Linked DNA regions of Homo sapiens: region 1 is linked to region 2. The links come from fine-mapping of genetic effects on gene expression. Tissue or cell type: whole blood. Region 2 holds a variant in brackets; the other region holds the start of a gene. All regions are shown on one strand. Distances are from middle to middle. Region 1 holds the start of GIMAP2 (GTPase, IMAP family member 2). Region 2 overlaps LOC124901774 (a long non-coding RNA gene).

What was found.
Region 1: GIMAP2 starts here. The variant in region 2 is fine-mapped to the expression of GIMAP2 in whole blood (TOPMed, PIP above 0.99).

What each region holds. Positions count from the first base shown.
Region 1 is chr7:150,683,906-150,686,822 of GRCh38, reverse strand. GIMAP2 (GTPase, IMAP family member 2) reads right to left here and starts at 1,117. Exons shown (of 3, transcript NM_015660.3): 1 at 1,038-1,117. It overlaps LOC124901774 (a long non-coding RNA gene), which reads left to right. Exons shown (of 4, transcript XR_007060589.1): 2 at 647-701. RefSeq lists an enhancer at 1,043-1,242.
Region 2 is chr7:150,662,194-150,665,110 of GRCh38, reverse strand. All of the region lies in intron 2 of LOC124901774 (a long non-coding RNA gene), which reads left to right. Among named protein-coding and RNA genes, the nearest start is that of GIMAP2, 22 kb to the left of the region's middle. RefSeq lists an enhancer at 807-1,026. The variant T/C (reference allele first, on the strand shown) is at 1,718.

The DNA of each region.
Region 1 (2,917 bases), 22 kb before region 2:
ATGGGTGTGCACCACCATGCCCATCTAATTTTTGTAGTTTTAGTAGAGACAGGGTTTCACCATGTTGGCCAGGCTGGTCTCAAACTCCTGACCTCAAATGATCCACCAGCCTCGGCCTCCCAAAGTTCTGGAATTAAAAGCGTGAGCCATCACACTAGGCCAAGATCCTTATATTTCTAAACAACCATGTTTCATTTGTCTACTCATAAGGGACAAGGTGGGTGGGAAAGGAATGACTTCCTACTTTACAGAGAACTGGAATCACTTGCTGAGGGGCTGAGAAGTGGGTTTCATTTGTAAGCCTCATGCCCAGCTCTCTCTCGCTTTCTTCCTCCCGTCCTCTCACAGATCAGCCCGGCTCCCTTCTGTTTTTGTTTTGCCTGCACACTCTTCGCTTCTGTCAGCTTTCTCTGTAGGTGTGCCTTCCCTTACACCTTAGGCTCAGTCCTCCCTTTCCCTCTCTTTCTTTTCCCACCTTGCCTCCTTCCCTCCTCTACTCTCTCCAAACCTCCTCCCTCATGTTGAGTCTTTGCTGAGAGACTCAGTGAATGAAGATTATGACTCTGGGAAACCGTGCAGTCCTTTAAGCTGGAAATACACTTCACTTGATCCATTAATGGCTTGAATTTTTCTCATTCCCCAACAGCCCCTGGTTATGAAGCCCTTGCAATGTAGGAACTACTATGGAGTGAGAAATATCGGTACGTTTTCATCAGCTAGTTTCTCTTGCTTAAATCTGGCAGGCATAGACCAAGCGTACAAGCACAGAAAACTGAAAGCCACCGATTAATGCCCAAATTCTTCCCAGTTAGCACTTTTTATTGACTTTATACTATGGAAATTCTTTCTTTGCCAGTAATGTGTAAAGTAAATTACATCGGTTTCCTGTAAACTGGCTCCACTTAAGGAAAAGGCAGTCACTCTAAATTGCTTCTCTTAAAATAGGACAAATTTGTTCTAAGAAAAATGAAAATGTTTGTGCATGGCTTGGGACCTAGAAATCAACACTGCAGAACTTTTCGTAAATCTGGGCTTACCTGATTTACTGTTCAAAGAAACAGTTGGCTCCCTGTTCAGTCCTGTTGTCTTATAGCTCAGCTCCAAGAGAAAAAGAAAGTAAAACCGAGACTCCAGTCGGTCTTCTTCCTCTCTTGAATCTTCCTGAGCTTCCTGACTGCTAATGAACGCCACCACGTGCCTGTGTTTGAAATTCTCTTTCATGCCATTATGCAAAATAAACAGTTTAAATGGAAAGTTAATCAGTAGTTATTTGCTGTCATGTGGGCCAACTGTCTCTTCTTCTCAAAAGTGAAAAAAGAGTGTTTTAATGATTTCATCTGGACTGGAAAGAAAGGCATGAATGCCAAGGAAGTTGGTGGATTTCAGTCCTTCCCAGCTGGGATATGTCCCAACAGTTAGAAGTTTGTCTAGATGCAAATGGCCCCCTGAGAAGGGCTTAAACCTCATTGACACCAGCAGCAGGGATTGTTCTAAAGCAGATGCCACTGGGAGAGAAGAGGAGCCTCTGATAGGCACTGCCCAGGGGAAGAAGGGCACAGAAAGGGGAACCTGAGAGGGGACATTTTTGTCTGAGTCTGATTGTAAGGATCATTAACCATCAAAACATTTTTACATAACTCATTCATGGCTTCTAGGATTCTGGGCCTTTCTTCCCTGTCCAGCTCTGTAATTTCAGAGAACCTCCCTGTGGGGAGAAATTGTCTAGGAAATGTCTATAGTAATACTCTGGAGTGTTGGCTGGGTCAAATGGTATTTCTAGTTCAAGATGCCTGAGGAATCGCCACACTGACTTCCACAATGGTTGAACTAGTTTACGGTCCCACCAACAGTGTAAAAGTGTTCTTATTTCTCCACATCCTAGCATTTAAAACATTTCCTTTTGATTGTCTTGGAGTTTCCAGGTTTATCATAGACTCAGTTGCAAATAGTGATAATTTTCCCTCCTTGTTTCCAAAAATATCTTATGTTGCTTTCTCTTGTATAATTACAATTGCTTGCTACCTTTTCAAAAGTGAGTTAATGTGCTTTTATTATTTATTTACCTGTAGGGCACCTAATATCTTATCATTAATATTGATGTTGGTTATTGGAAATTAATTAGTTTATTTTAAAATCAGTGTGGCTATACTTTGCTTAGTCCTATTTCATTAAAGTCTTTTATCTGTGGTATAAATTTAGAAAATTTTATTTTGACGTTGACTGATATAATTCCATGTCTTTTTCCTTTTGACCTACTAATATTGCAAATTACATCACTGCGTTTCCTAACATAAGTGATATGTACATGTACATGTGCAAAGGTTTGGGTTCCTAGGAATACAGACTGTTGAGATGAAGATAAAATGGATGAAGGAAGTTTATTAGGGAATCTTCTCAGGAAATGTGCTAGAGGGAGAAGGGAAGAACCCAGGATTAGGCAGGGAGAAGTGAGACTGAGATGTAGTCACAACAAATATAGACTCTACAGGGAGTTCTAAAGTTTGGTTGGACTTTCAGAATGAAGGAGAGTGAGCAGAACTTTATAATCCCCATCGGATGCAAACTTCCTCTGGAAAAGACACTTGACTTACATAGGGCATCTCTCTTCAGCATAAGCTAATTTCTGGACAGGTCTGACGGCTCAACAGCTGAGAGCTAACAACTGGTCTCACTCCCAGCAACTGGAGATAGGTCCTTCTGTTTTTGCACTGTTCCTCTAGGTTTGGAGATGCAAATATTGCTTCTCCTGCTTCATCTTTTAGATCATCTGTAGAGACTTCCAAGCACAGTTTTAAATATCTCCCTCATGAAATTTCTTGTTCAAGCCTTCTCACTCCTGTCCCTTCTGAACATGAGCATACATGGAACATTTCCCCTATGTCCCATGGTTCTAGTAAGTGATGTGACTACAGCCTTA
Region 2 (2,917 bases):
GCTAGCATGGAGGCCCTGGTTTTCCACTGGAGCCCATCAGCATGGACTTTGCCATTAGCACCCTAGCACCTGTGCCTCCCACTGACAAGTTCACCACCTCATGGAAAGAGCAGCAGCCTGGGGGTCAGGAGATGAAGGTTGGGGGCATGATGCTTGTTTTATGGTTAAAGTGAGGATTGCGGGAGGTGACTTAAGTTCTCTTCCCACATCAACATCCAAAGTTCTCTGATATTTCTGACCTTACCCAGTGAGCACGAAACTCTACTCACCCATTAGCACAGGCTGGCCAAATGACCCATCAACAGAGACTCAGTTCTCAGAGAGCTGTGGGAACACAGCTGAACTGCACAGGGCTGGTTCTGAGGACCTGTGATCCCTAATGGAGACCATACCTGGTGACCAGACCAGGAGAGTGACAATGCCAACCCTGGGAGGTGAGGAGTAGAGTGCCCTGTCCAGGGAGCTATGTTCGTAAAAGCCCGAAGTTCTGGGGTCTGACCCCTGAGATTCCACACAGTGTTGACTTGCAGAGACTGAGGGGCCAGTATGTCAGCTTTGTCCCCCTCTTGGTGCAAAATAACCAAGGAGGCAGGTTGTGCTGAGAGACATGGGCACTCAGCCCCCCTTTCTTCATGTTCCAATCCCTATCTCACCTTACCACAAACCATACTGTTCCCCTGAAAGCCCCTGGTTTCTGACCTATTCCTCAATATCATGGGGGAGCAAAGCGTGCCCAGGAGGGTCAGGACAGGAAGAAAAGGCCTCAAGAGTCAGGATCGCCTCCATCCCAAGGGCTTTGCACTTAGGTTTGGACAATGTCTCCTCATAGTTTCAGTTCTTCCTTTGCTTTGGCAATGCAGCATTTTTCTTAAACCAGTGTTACCTGCCATTTGTAGAAGTTTGTACCTCTTTATTATACAGTGTAGAGGTTTTTGTTCATGTGCCTCTCAGCATGTCCCCAGGAGGTCTGTGGTCTACAACTGATGTGAGCCCATTTCCCAGAACCTTCTCAAGATATGAAAGCAAGACTGTTTATTGTAAATTTACCTGTGAATGCAGCAACACTACTTCCTGTGGCTGCAACAGCCATTTTCTGTCTCACCTCCTCCATCTGTTATCTCAGCCTTCACATACAGTGTGGTTTCCACACAGGACAGAGTTAGAATTGGGGCCCATGTCCCCTCCCTACACATGGGATGTGCTCTGGATGGCTGGAAGGCCAGACTGGGATGAGGAGGAGTCTCTCCACGGACACCTTGCGGAATTGTGCTCAGGCCCCTCTGTAGACCCTCCCCAGGCTGGTGCTGACCCAAGGGTGACAGGAGAGTTATTCTCTGAGTCTGCAGACCCACACACGGCCTTATTCAGACAGACCCAACAATGACCATTTCTGACTTCCTCAGGAGTAGGCAAGATGACCACTTAGTTGAAGCAGGTGCCTCTGGCCTAACCTGCCATGCAGGAATCTGACAACTGAGTTCTGAAAGCCTAAACTGCTGACAGTTTTAGTTTTAGATTTGCTGCCTATTTGGAAGCAATGATAACCTACATTCTTTTTATTTTATTTCATTTTAAGTTTCAGGATACATGTACAGGACATGCAGGTTTTTCACATAGGTAAATGTGTGCCGTGGTGGTTTGCAGCACCTATCAGCCCATCACTTAGGTATTAAGCCCTGCATGCATTAGCTATTTATCCTGGTGTTCTCTCTCCCAC[T/C]GCCCAACCAACAGGCCCCAGTGTGTGTTGTTCCCCTCCTTGTGTCCATGTGTTCTCATTGTTCAGCTCCCATTTATAAATGAGAACATGCGGTGTTTGGTTTTCTGTTCCTGTGTTAGTTTGATGATGATAATGGCCTCCAGCTCCATCCATATTCCTGCAAAGGACATGAACTTGTTCCTTGTTATGCCTGCATGGTATTCCATGGTATATATGTGCCACATTTTCTTTATCCAGTCTATTACTGATGGGCATTTGGGTTGGTTCCAAGTCTTTGCTATTGTAAATAGTGCTGCAATAAACATATGTGTGCATGTGTCTTTATGGTAGAATGATTTATATGCCTCTGGGTATGTACCAAGTAATGAGATTTCTGGGTTGAATGGAAGTTCTGCTTTTAGAAAGTATCTGAATTTTGGTTTGTGTGAATTTACAATCTACATGCAATACTAACTAAATCAGATAGCTTTTACAGTTTCACATGTGGACATAGGTTCTCTCCCAGTCTCTTCCATACCCATTAGTTATTGAACTTTCTAAACTGGCATTGAAACAATGTCTCTGGCATACAACAATGTTTTGTTGCACCAGTTTTATAAACTTATGCAGTGCAATATGTGTTATTTTTCTGAAGCAAACCAAAGGTTCTTGCTGCCTTGTTTAGCAGCATTTTATTAAGGATCTTTTATACATTTGTAATAGATAAAAATAAACCAGATTGCAAATCCTTTTTAAAAATCTTAAACCATGTACCAAGTTTTTGATCCAAATTGTGTAGGATAAGTTAAACTTAAATTGCATTCTGTTAACCAATATGAGTGTATTTGTGTAAGCAAAGTTATGTTGAAACAAAGTTTTAACAAGCAAAAAAATATTCCTCTGCACAGACCTATTTACACTGTGAAAAAGATAGGGGTTTTTTCGTGTGTAAAGGATATGTAATAAATTTTATTTACTCAATTTTTCATGTGTTATTCTGCTAGGGAAAATAATTTTTCTGTGTAAAGGGTATGTAACAAAATTCACTTACTTAATAATTTTTTGTGTTTATTCTGCTGGGCTCTGCAAATCACATGTCCACAAGATAGTCATGAATCTCTGACCTCAAGCAAACTCTCAGTCTAATGGAAAGAATGTTTGGGATTAATACAGGACCTGTCCCCAGTGATTCTTTATTGGAGCTCATGAGCCATCATGGGG